3 separate regions of the Homo sapiens genome follow, and all the other regions are reported to be linked to region 1. Evidence: microRNA targets listed by miRTarBase, many of them from high-throughput screens and not tested one by one. Region 1 holds a microRNA gene; each other region holds the end of a gene's coding sequence.
Evidence for each region. Region 1 holds the annotated microRNA hsa-miR-378a-3p (ACUGGACUUGGAGUCAGAAGGC, at 1,367-1,388, opposite strand). A microRNA usually pairs through its seed, bases 2 to 8, with sites in the 3' UTR of a target mRNA and lowers its output. Matches are read on the target gene's strand: a 7mer-m8 pairs with bases 2 to 8, a 7mer-A1 pairs with bases 2 to 7 and ends in A, and an 8mer does both.

Region 2: miRTarBase lists HSP90AA1 as a target of hsa-miR-378a-3p. The part of its 3' UTR that is shown has no 7-base or 8-base seed match.
Region 3: miRTarBase lists BYSL as a target of hsa-miR-378a-3p. Seed matches in the 3' UTR shown: 7mer-m8 at 388-394.

Annotation. Positions count from the first base shown.
Region 1 is chr5:149,730,255-149,734,254 of GRCh38, reverse strand. It overlaps MIR378A (microRNA 378a), which reads right to left and starts at 1,430; the gene lies at 1,365-1,430. PPARGC1B (PPARG coactivator 1 beta) reads right to left here and starts at 3,945. Exons shown (of 12, transcript NM_133263.4): 1 at 3,835-3,945. The coding sequence starts at 3,912. RefSeq lists silencers at 2,278-2,507, 2,538-2,627, 2,648-2,697, 2,708-2,807, 3,608-4,000 and enhancers at 3,278-3,327, 3,338-3,457, 3,696-4,000.
Region 2 is chr14:102,078,489-102,082,488 of GRCh38, forward strand. HSP90AA1 (heat shock protein 90 alpha family class A member 1) reads right to left here. Exons shown (of 11, transcript NM_005348.4): 10 at 3,623-3,956; 11 at 2,254-3,333. The coding sequence ends at 3,224. Among named protein-coding and RNA genes, the nearest start is that of HSP90AA1, 6.6 kb to the right of the region's middle.
Region 3 is chr6:41,932,460-41,936,459 of GRCh38, forward strand. It overlaps BYSL (bystin like), which reads left to right. Exons shown (of 7, transcript NM_004053.4): 7 at 1-587. The coding sequence ends at 247. It overlaps CCND3 (cyclin D3), which reads right to left. Exons shown (of 5, transcript NM_001760.5): 5 at 2,493-3,648. The coding sequence ends at 3,481. Among named protein-coding and RNA genes, the nearest start is that of CCND3, 7.3 kb to the right of the region's middle.

The sequences.
Region 1 (4,000 bases):
CGCCTCCCGGGTTCAAGCGATTCTCCTGCCTCAGCCTCCCAAGTAGCTGGGATTACAGGTGTGTGTCACCACGCCCAGCTAATTTTTGTATTTTTAGTAGAGACAGGATTTCACCATGTTGGCCAGGCTGGTCCGGAACTCCTGACCTCAGGTGATTCACCCGCCTCGGCCTCCCAAAGTGCTAGGATTACAGGGGTGAGCCACCGTGCCCGGCGACTCCATTTTTTAAAAATAAGATGTGATCTATATGAACAGGAAATAAACAGTCTGGAATATACATGACAATTAAGTGGTTATCTTTGGGTCATGTTACATATTTCTCATTTTTTTCTTTATGCTTGGCAGTATTTTCTAACAATTCTATAATTAAATATTTTTAAATAAGTTGTTAGAACTGATGATTTCTAACATTCCCGCTGCCAACTCTGACATTTTGTGCATCTATGACTGATGCCCTAAGCAACTTCAAATAGCCCATATTTAGTGTGGACTTGCTGTGTGGCCTTTGGGGTCTAAAATTTTGCCCACAGCTGCAGCCCTCTGCATTCCTCTCTCCCACACTCGCTGCCCAGCTGTCTCCCCTGCTAGCCTGGGAGCTTCTGCTTGGCAGGACCCAGCTGCACCCCTGTCTGTAATCCATGTGCCTAGCCAAGAGCTAAGCAAAGGAACACAGCTCAGCATACTGACAGGTGCCTTGCAGGCACAATGATAAAAGGTACAACCCTAGTGCTAGAATCTTACTGGACACCAGACTCACACAAAGTGCTTGGTTGTATCACACAGATGCAGAAAACCAAAGGAGAGAAAGCAGGGCAAGCTGGGCTGGGAGAGCCTAGTAGAGGAGAAGGCCATGCAGGACGGGTGAGTGAGGGTACTCTGGGCCAGGGGCATAGCCTGAACAAAGGTGAAGCCACCCACAGTCCTTTGGGATCCATGCCTCAAAGCTTTCCAAGAAACTTTCGCAATCCTTGTTCTGCTAAATTTCCGTACTTTGGCCCCAATGGGTAAAAGTTAAGTCTCCTAAACAGAAGTCCTCCCTCTAATCTAACCCTGGATTAGCCACCAAAGACAACAACAATCTTTTGGGACAAAGACAATGAATTACCATTTAATCCACTTTCCCCAAAGCTCCCAAAGGGAGATGAAGGAGGGGAGGGTCAGGGAAAGTTTGGGGGAGGAGAGGGGGTTGCAGGAACAACCAGAACATCTCACATGCAAACACTGCTCACCCCCACCACCAGGCCATTGGATTCTCTTGCGGCACCACCAGCCCCATTTGACAGATGGAGGAAATGAGGCTCGGAGAGTTCAAATGGCTTGCTCCGGGGTCACCCAGCCAGAGAGTGGGGAAGGTGACTCCACTCAGGCCTTCTGACTCCAAGTCCAGTGCTATTTCTAGGTAACACACAGGACCTGGAGTCAGGAGCCCTGGGTGGCTCTGTCACCCTCTGGCTGCATGGTCCCATACAAGCCGCTCACTCCTCGCAGCCTCTTTCTCCAGCTGTAAAATAAGGAGGAGCACACTGGGCCCGCCCAGGTCCTCTTCCGGCTGGGCTCTCCGAGCCTTCTAGGGGCGGCTCAAAGCTCATCCTATCAATTACATTTCCCAAGTTGGGCCGGCAAAGATCACCAGAAGATCCTCGGCCTGTCATGTGGTTAAATAAAAAAAGCAAATGTCCCAGATTAACTTTCACTGCACTGCTCCTGCAAACACCTGAGTATTCAATTTTCTAGTTTCCTTAGTTGAAATATTTCTGCTAGCTAGGCTCGCTGGGCGGCTAAAGGGCAAAATAATTAATTATTGCTGAGCCAAACACTGAAGATCGAGTTAAAATCCGGGGTACAGTCCAAAGCGGACAGTTCTTGACATGGGTCCCTGAACGAGTCTCCGGCTATTTCAGGCCTCTCTCATCCGCTTTTCAGCCAAGAGATTCGGAGACGCCCCAGGGCAATTTCGAGATCTGGGGACAGAATCTTCCCAGGAGTGACTCTGCCCCTCCTCCCGCACTCAGTGCCCGCTAGCCCCAAGCTGTCGGCTCTGGGGGTACTGAGGCTGGGACCTGCCTTCGGCGCAGACACCGGCGCGGGGCGTGTGACGGAGCCCGGCGACGACGGCGGGAGCTCCACCGCAGTTTCGTCAGAGGTAAAGGTACGCGCCCGGCGCGCGCGGCGTGTGCACACACACACACACACACACACACACACACACCCGCGCGCGCAACCCGCTCATCACACATTCCCCTCGATCTCGAGAAGCGCAATCACACGCCACTAGCCCCTCCGGCCTCTGCCGCGAACCCACCCGAGCGCGCCCGCCACCGACCACGCGGCCCCGCGGCTCCCCTACGCAGCGGCGTCTGCAGCGGGCCAGGGGCGGCCTGCCTCCCGCGTGGCGGGCTTCCTCTCGGCGACACCCTGCCACGCCACGCCGTCCCAGCCGCCAGCCCGAAGTCGCTGCCCGGAGCTGAACGTCTCGGCTGCGGCGTCCCTTCCAAGTCGCGTTTCACCGCAAGGAGTCAGCTTGCAAGCCTCTCCCCGCCCACCCGGTCCCATGACAGCTGCTGCCGCCCAAAGACAGGCAGATTATAACAAGAAGCAAAGTTTCCCTCTCTCTCCTCCCACCTCCCTCCCCCAATCTCCGCCTTCCCCCTCCCTTCCACTGTTATGCAAAACGGGCCGGCACCGGCGCTCCCACTCCAGGTACCAAACCAGCCCCCGCGAGCCGCGCCCGGTTCCGCCCGGCCGCCCCTCTCCGTGCCCAGGCGTGTGCCAGCACCCGGGGCTCCTCCGAGGTTCCGCCGCATCCTCAGCTTCCCAATGACCCGCAGCCGGGCGCCCAGAGAAAAAGCCCTAACTCTGGAGCCAAACTTTATGCTTGCAACAGGCATTGGGTGGGGAAAATGGGGGAAGGGGTGGGGGCCGCGCACGCCTCGTGCTGACATTTTTGGTGGCTGCTTGTCCCAGCAGCACCCCTCTCCCAGTCTCCAAGCCACCAGCTTCCTCGCTCCCCCGCGCCCCGGCACACCAGAGCACCCTCTCCTGTCACGCGCGTGTCGCCAGTGGGGCTCCCGGGCTCAGCCAGTGCCTGGGACTCCGCCTCGCCTTCCCTTCCCCCTGCATCGTGGAGCGCGCACCGGGGCCGCGCACCGCAGGGGGACCCAGGCGCCCCCAGACAGTCCTTCCGCCCCCATCCAGCCTGGCTTTTCCCCCCAGGGGGCTCCGCCCGATAGCGAAACCAGGAAGACGCTGTCTCCGCCCGCATGTCCACGTGCCCCGCAGACCCTTATGCCTTTAGCCGGCAACTGGCAGGAAACTCCGCGCTGCGGGCGCGGGTAGAAAGCCGCGGGGGGCCAGCAACAGCACTCTGGGGACTACAGCCTGGAGGACTAGGGGACTCCGGAGACCCGGGCATGCACCCGTGCCGGGGCCACAAGTCCACGTGAAAGTACGGCAGCAAGTGCCGGGCGCTGACGGCGCGCCTCCAGCACCCAGCGCCAGCCTGAGGGTACCCCACACCGTGGCGCGCCTCCACCTCCCAAAGGAAGCGCGGTACCCCCCAGTTTTGCCCGCGGGGTGGCAGACTCCAAGCGGCCAAGGCTAGACCCTCCCCAGCGGCCGTAGCGCCCCCAGCGCTCCGGCACGCGCCGGGAGACCTCCGGCTCCCTGCCCCGGTAACGGAGCGCATCGCAGGGCGCCTGGAAGGGGGGCTCTGCAGCCTGGAACCCCCAGTTACCCCAGGGCTCCCACCGCTGCCTCCCGGCCTCCGCGGCTGCAGCTGCGGCCCCCGCAGCTCAGCACCCCTGGCCCCGGGCCCGCAGCCCCAGCCGGCCGTACCTGCGTGTCAGCGAGATAGTTGAGGAAGAAGGAGGAGAGCTCTTCGTCCAGCAGCGCGCCGCAGTCGTTCCCCGCCATCTTCCAGCCGCGGCTGCAGCGTGCGGCGGAGTCAACGCCGAGCCGGCCCGGGGGGAGGGAGCCAGCGAGCGAGCAAGGGAGGAGGGAG
Region 2 (4,000 bases), not on the chromosome of region 1:
AGTGAGCTCTCAGGACAGGAGGAGAGGGTTAGCCCTAAGCAGATGAAAGAGTCCTGGCCAGGTGCGTGGCTCATGCCTGTAATTCCAGCACTTAAAGCTGGCCAAGGCGGGCAGATCACCTGAGGTCAGGAGTTCGAGACCAGGCTGGCCAACATGGTGAAACCCTGTCTACTAAAAATACAAAATTGGCCGGGCATGGTGGCGGGTGCCTGTAATCTCAGCTACTCGGGAGGCTGAAGCAGGAGAATCGCTTGAACCCGGGAGGTGGAGTTTGCAGTGAGCCTAGATCACGCCATTGCACTCCAGCCTGGGCAATAAAGTGAGACTTCGTCTCAAAAAAAAAAAAGAAAAAACATATATATATACACACACACAGCTGGCACCACCTGATCATTTTCCAGCACTTCCATTGCCCTCAAAAGTTCCTTCTTGCCTCTCTGCAGTCACTCCCTGCTCTGACTCCTGGCCCCAGGCAACTACTGCTTTTCTTTCATTTTTTTATCTTTATAGAGACAGGGTCTTGCTCTGTGTCCCAGGTTGGGGTGCAGTGGAATGATCATGGCTCACTGCAGCCTTAAACACCTGAGCTCATGCAATCCTCCCACCTCAGCCTCCCAAGTAGCTGGACTACAGGCATGTGCCACCATGATCAGCTATTTTAAATTTTTTTTTGGGACGGTGTATCCTTCTGTTGCCCAGTCTGAAGTGCAGTGGCGCAATCAGCTCACTGCAACCTACGCCTCCCGGGTTCAAGTGATTCTCCTGCCTCAACCTTCCGAATAGCAGAGATTACAGGTCCCTGCCGCCACGCCCAGCTAATTTTTGTATTTTTAGTTGAGATGGGGTTTTGCTATGTTGGCCAGGCTGGTCTGGAACTCCTGACCCTCAGGTGATCCACCCACCTTGGCCTCCCAAAGTGCCGGGATTACAAGCATGAGCCACACCTGGCCTTAATTTTTTCAGAGGGACAGGGTCTCACTTTGTTGCCTAGACAGTCTTGAACTCCTGGGCTCAAGCAATTCTACCTTTGCCTCCCAAAGTGTTGGGATTACAGGCGTGACTCACCATGCCTGGCTCAACTATCCTATGCTAAAATCATTTCTAGCATAATTTTGGTAGATTCCTTATGAGTTTCCTACCTAGACGACCATGTCATCTATAATTCTCTTGTCCAGTTTGCATGTCTTTTCAGCACTCACCACCCTCCCTGGCAGGATGGAACTTGATTATGGAAGGTTTGAAACAACAGTGAATTTTGAAGCAATAGGGTAAGAATTGTGGTCCTGGAGCAGTGCAAGGGCATTTTCAGCATGACATTCATGTGTCATCTAGCTCATCTTCTCACTCACTGGGCTGGGGATCCATCTTCTTGGTGGTACAGTCTCCAGCATGGGGGTTGCTGGGAGATGGGTACTTACCTGTGCATCTGGACCTATTTGCCATAAATGCTTTCCCAGTAACTCCAGGAGGATGAGTTCATTTGGGAGATCATTTATAGAGGTTCTATATTGACTTGATTCCCTCAAGTGCCTTATGTTTTTAATTGAAAGAAATCTTAAGATTTAATATTCTCTTGCTAGACCTGGGAAAAAACAAAATTGACTTTTTACCCTTTTTGCCATTCACTTCCTAGTTTAACACCGTAAACCTTTCTTCTAACACCTTTCAGTACGCAACAAAACTTAGCAGAATAAAATGGGGCTTTGGAGTTAAATTTAAATTCAGCCACTACTAAGACCTCAATTTACGTAATTCCTCCTGTATATTATCGAAGGGGATTAAGAACTTTTCAGAGAATTTAAAGGACTAAACGTGATTGCCATTTACCAAGCATTCAATACCTGCTTAGCACGAGACTGAGACAAGGTCTCTCCCTGCCTGTGCACTGCCCCCTTAGACACTGTCACATATCCAAGTCCCAGGCATTTCCTATCATTTTTATATATGGCGTTAGGCTCAGAATGCAAATCCTATATGCTATCTAACCAAGTTTTGTCTCTAGAACCACCAAATTTCAGAAGTGAAGACTTTTATTTAGCCATTACCACCCCCAGTCCCCAGAGGGACTCTTACCTATTGGGCTGATTTTTTCATCTTTTTTTTGAGATGGAGTTTCGCTCTTGCTGCTCAGGCTGCAGCGCAATGGTGCAATCCCAGCCCACCGCAACCTCCGCCTCCCAGGTTCAAGCGATTCTCCTGCCTCAGCCAGGATGGCTTTAAGTAGATTTGTAAAGAACTTTGAGACACTGTAAGGCCAAGGAATTAAGTGACTGTATTTAACACAGAAGGTATTCCATGAATAACATCAAAACAACGTGGACACTAAGAGAACACATGTAACTCATGGACGCAGGGGATGCATGTTGTCTGCATTCCTGTTTTCTGTGCCTACGTGTGCTCCACCCCACACCTGCTGAGTACATGCTGGGAAGACCATGTCAACCCTTGGAGCAGCTAGTGTTTAACCATCTCCTGCTAGCGCCTCATGTTTTACATTTTGGCACTAACTGTCATCCAGATACTCCCCTTTCCCCCTAAATAAGACACTGTCACACAATATCTTTTAACTCATCTGTATTTGTTACAACTTTAAGCAGAATGTGACTCGAGCACTACATTTCCATCCACAAGACTGGGTCTGAGTTATTTTTGAACAGCTTTACGATATGCTTAGGTAGGCTTTTAACTTTGCTCCTCCAAACAATACTTTTCTTTGGAAAACAAGCCCTGTGGAGAGATCCTTCCATCAAGTTGCTTCAGTTTAACCTATTTCTAGAGGACTAGTACATGCAGAATTGTCAACTACAGGGAATGAAAAGTTCAAAAAGTAGATCCTACAAGATGTAACGAATACTTTTCTAAACATCAAGATACAGCTCAGAACACTTCAATAACAAGATTTGGTCTACTTAGGCATCCGGCTTGACAGCTAAACACTTTAGACCACAAAGTTAACATCATGTTACATACGTCTTACAGTGCACGTTACCCCAATCTGTGAAAATAAACCAACATGAAACTCAAAAAGCATTACTAGCTCTGCTTTAGTGCCTAAGGTATCACAGCATCACTTAGTAGACAGAAATCTTATCTTCCCCTTAAAGTAGTTGTCATGCCATACAGACTTTTTAATATTAACAAAAATAAAGAAAAACATCCTTGAAAATATATTATCAGAGGAATTGTAGAGTACTGAACAGGTAAGTCATCCCTCAGCCAGAGATTAGTCTACTTCTTCCATGCGTGATGTGTCGTCATCTCCTTCAAGGGGTGGCATTTCTTCAGTTACAGCAGCACTGGTATCATCAGCAGTAGGGTCATCTTCATCAATACCTGTTTCCAAAATAAAATCCTCATATTACAAAGATTTCTTAAAGCCAGCTATTAGGGTAATACTCTTGGTTTCTATCTGCTTTCAAGACAGTATTACAGGACATATGAGTCTCAATTTCATTTCTTTGCTCTTGTAAGACCTTACTTATCCCTAAAAAAAACATACTTTAATACCTCCAAGCAGCAAGCAGGACAAGGTGCTCCAAGTTTGGATAACTGAAAGTTCACCATTTTCTTCAATGTCACGTGTGTTTATTTTCTTTTTAACATTACATAGTATAAGGCTTACCCAGACCAAGTTTGATCATCCTGTAGATCCTGTTAGCATGTGTCTGGGGATCTTCCAGACTGAAGCCAGAAGACAGGAGCGCAGTTTCATAAAGCAAGATGACCAGATCCTTCACAGACTTGTCGTTCTTATCAGCCTCTGCCTTTTGCCTTAAGGTCTCAATAATGGAATGGTCAGGGTTTATCTCCAGGTGTTTCTTTGCTGCCATGTAACCCATTGTTGAGTTGTCTCTTAGGGCTTGAGCTTTCATGATTCTCTCCATGTTTGCTGTCCAGCCATATGTGCTTGTGACAATACAGCATGGAGATGTCACCAATCGGTTTGACACAACCACCTGTAATCAAAAAGTGATGACTAGGAACCTAGAAAGATTAATTC
Region 3 (4,000 bases), not on the chromosome of region 1:
GCTGGATGCCCTAGTCTTCCACTTCCTGGGGTTCCGGACAGAGAAGCGTGAACTGCCTGTGCTGTGGCACCAGTGCCTCCTGACTTTGGTCCAGCGCTACAAGGCCGACTTGGCCACAGACCAGAAAGAGGCCCTCTTAGAACTGCTCCGGCTGCAGCCCCATCCACAGCTATCGCCCGAAATCAGGCGTGAGCTTCAGAGTGCAGTCCCCCGCGATGTGGAAGATGTTCCCATCACCGTGGAGTGAGGAAAACAGTCAGCTGTCCTGGCCAAAGGGGTTTGGAAGGACACCAAGACCCCCGTTGGTGACTGAAGATGACACTGAGCTTTAATGGCTGAAGACCCAGATCAGGGCAGTGACAGATCACAGGGACATCTGTGGCTCCCAGTCCAGGACAGGAAGGACTGAGGGTCTGGCTGGTTCCCTCTTCCATTCTAGGCCCTTATCCCTGTTTAGTTCTGAGAGCCAACTTGAGATACCATATGCTAGCATTCCCAGTCCCCAGCTGGGGCTTGGTGTGAGTACTTTTTCTATGGCTATTGTGTCAGGTCACTGTGGATAAAGGCAAAGACAGATATTTATTGAACCTCTGTGTTTGGTGTAGTCAATGGAGGTAGGCATTACTCCTGTTAGTATTTGGAGGACGGAGGACATTCTTGTCCTGTTTATATAGGACCCACCTCCCTTGATCTCCAAGCTTGTTTCTCCAGGCTGCACTCACCTTGTTAGCCCCCAGGGGACACATCCTCTGCCTTCCCCCATCACAGGCTACAGCAGCCAGGAGCAGGTTGTCCAAAGATGGTCGTGTCTCAGCAGTGGATGAAAGGACTACAAGAGAAAACTCCTTGGGGAAAGCAGAGATAAGAGTCAAGAAAGGCCAGAGAGGCTGGGCTTGGTGGCTCACGCCTGTAATCCCAGCACTTTGGGAGGCTGAGGTAGGTGGATTACCTGAGTTCAGGAGTTCGAGACCAGCCTGGCCAACATGGTGAAACCCCTTCTCTACTAAAAATACAAAAATTAGCTGGGTGTGGTGGCGTGTGCTTGTAATCCCAGCTACTTGGGAGGCTGAGGCAGGAGAATCGCTTCAACCTGGGAGGTGGAGGTTGCGGTGATCCAGGATTGGGGCCACTACACTCCAGCCTGGGCCACGGAGCAAGACTGTCTCAAAAAAAAAAAAAAAAGGCCAGAGAATAAGGCTGGGCCCAAGAATGGTTAGATCAGAGCTAGCATCAAACAGGCTCCCTTTCTGGCTTTTCAGCCAATGAAAGCTTTAGACTAGTGACTAGTAAACTAGGGCCAGGTGCCCCTTTTTTTGTTGATTTGTTTTTTGAGACGGAGTCTCGCTCTGTCGCCCAGGCTGGAGTACAGTGGCATGATCTCGGCTCGCTGCAACCTCCGCCTCCATGGTTCAAGAGATTCTCCTGCCTCAGCCTCCTGAGTAGCTGGGACTACAGGTGCGTGCCACCACGCCTGGCTAATTTTTGTATTTTTAGTAGAGACGGGGTGGAGAAGGGGTTTCACCAGGTTGGCCAGGCTGGTCTCAAACTCCTGACCTCAGGTGATCCACCCGCCTCGGCCTCCCAAAGTGCTGGGATTACAGGCATGAGCCACTGCACCCAGCCCAAGTGCCCATTTTTGTGTGGCCCATGAGCTAAGAATGATTTTTCCATTTTTAAATGGGGAAAAAATTAAAACAGTATTTTGTGATAGGTAGGAATTACATGAAATTCCAGTTTCAGCATCCATAAATAGTTTTGTTGGAACAGCCATGCTCACCCATTTACATGTTTTCTGTGGCTGGTTTTGTGCTACAACAGCAGAGTTTAAGTATAATCCTGCTATAACCCTTGTTATTTGCTTTCGAAATTGCGCATTTGTTCCAACCCATTTAATATATTTGGGAACAGTTTGATCATAACGCAGACTTCATGTTTGCTTGTGTGTGATTTCATCCTCGAGAAATAGTAGGTGAATATGGGAAACTGTATCTAGCTGAACCAAGCCTAAGTAGTACACAAAACTCACACCTAAACATGTACCAGCTACCTCACTCATCTCCCCACCTGTGTTGAGCAACCCTTCCGACGTCCACTTCCAAAAGCAAAGTGCATGTCTTCAAGATAAAAGGCCATATTTATTGTGATATAATTTCTCAACCATTTGACATATGTAAAAACCAAGCTATCCTTTTTTTTTAAATGTGTCACTCATTTGAGTGTTGTGCTTCAAGCCCCATTTTTCCCATGAGACCTGTGGTCTTTATTGTGCAATTTTGCATGGCATAGTGATTTTTAGGAACGCATAGGTCACATTATAAAGCAGAACTGACTATATTTGGGTCAGAGACCATGTACCCCACAAAGCCTAAATATCCAGCCCTTTACAGAAAAGGCTCAATGATCCCTGCTTTAGACCATTGACTTCCACCTCCTTACCTCATACAGTGCAGAAATAGACTTACCCACACACCAATCCAAGAAGCCAAAGCCAGTTTTATTTCACAATCATCTTTATTACAGTAGGATGATGGTCCTGGGCCACCAGCCTAAACCTTGCAGCCTTAGGAAAGACCTGTGTCAACAGGGCTTGCCTCCCTCTCTAGACAGGGGCTCAGCCACCTCCAGGGCATCCCTGCTGCATTTTCCCTGCTGGAGGATGGGGCAGAGGGACAATGGGAGAGGAGGGCATGACCCCACCCCAGGCTATAGCAGCTCCTTGGCCACAAAGATCCTTTTGCCAGTAGCAGAAGGGAGGAAAACAGCAACCACCAGGGTTACCACCACTTGTGGGATGGCCAGGACCCCATTATGTCCTCTTAAAGTTGTGCTCAAAGCAATTAATAAATTAAAATGAGCCTTCAGCAGCAAAGCTGTCAATCACACAGGAGAAGCTGAGCAGAAAGCAAAGCAAAGAGGAATTTATAGCTTCTCTGGCTGAGGCCTAGGCCCCTCCCTCTAGGAGCAGCTGTCAGCACGGACTACATAGGGGCCTCCAAAGTACTGAGAGGAGCCATCTAGACTATTCCCCCTCATATGTGTCTATCATGCATTAAATTTTAGAGGGACCCCAATCCAAATGCAATAACCCTAGAAGGGACAACACCTTTAGAAGGCACTAGAGCATTTTGGCAGTTGAAAACATGAGAGCCCCCAGGGGTGGGGGGGGGCGTTCAAAAGGAATGCTGGTGTATGTATCCAATTCTGTCCCATCAGCCTGGCCCACCCCCAGCTAGAGTTGGGAAAGGCGCTGCTGGTCAGATGCAGGGAGGAGGAGCTTGACTAGCCACCGAAATGCAGACATGGCTGGCCGGGCCCCTTAGTGCACACTGCGGGGATGGGTAGGACCAGATCCCTTGGGCTTTGTGAAGGGGGAACAGACGCCCCTTCAGGCTTAGATGTGGTGTGGTTCCTGGAGGCAGGGAGGTGGGTGGCAGCGGCCCCTCCTCTGCTTAGTGGCCACTCCAGAGGGCCTCTCCAGGGCTACAGGTGTATGGCTGTGACATCTGTAGGAGTGCTGGTCTGGCTGGGCCCTTGGCTGCTGGAGCCCCGGGGGGCTTTGGGCGCTGGGCTGGAGCTGGTCTGAGAGGCTTCCCTGAGGCTCTCCCTGAGTGCAGCTTCGATCTGCTCCTGACAGGCCCGCAGGCAGTCCTGGGAACATGGGAGAAGAGTGAGGAGCAAACACTCCCCCCATAGCATCTGGCAGCAGGTGCAGGGGAAGGACAGCTCCCAACACATGGGGAAGTCTGGGGAGGTTAGGCCACAGCCCGGCCCCAGGAATCGCTCTTTAGTTCTCAGAAACTAGCAAGAGGATGTGGCAAGGGAGTGTGAGAGCAGCCCTGCATCTGACACCAAACCCCCCACCCCCACTCCAGCACACCACTTGGCAAGAAAAGAACCCCTAGGGCCAGTGCCCTTCACCCCACCCAAGATACTTGCTCTTCCCCAGACCAAGGCAGGAGATAAAAAGCCACAAAGCCCCAAGGTTGTGAAACCAGGACTT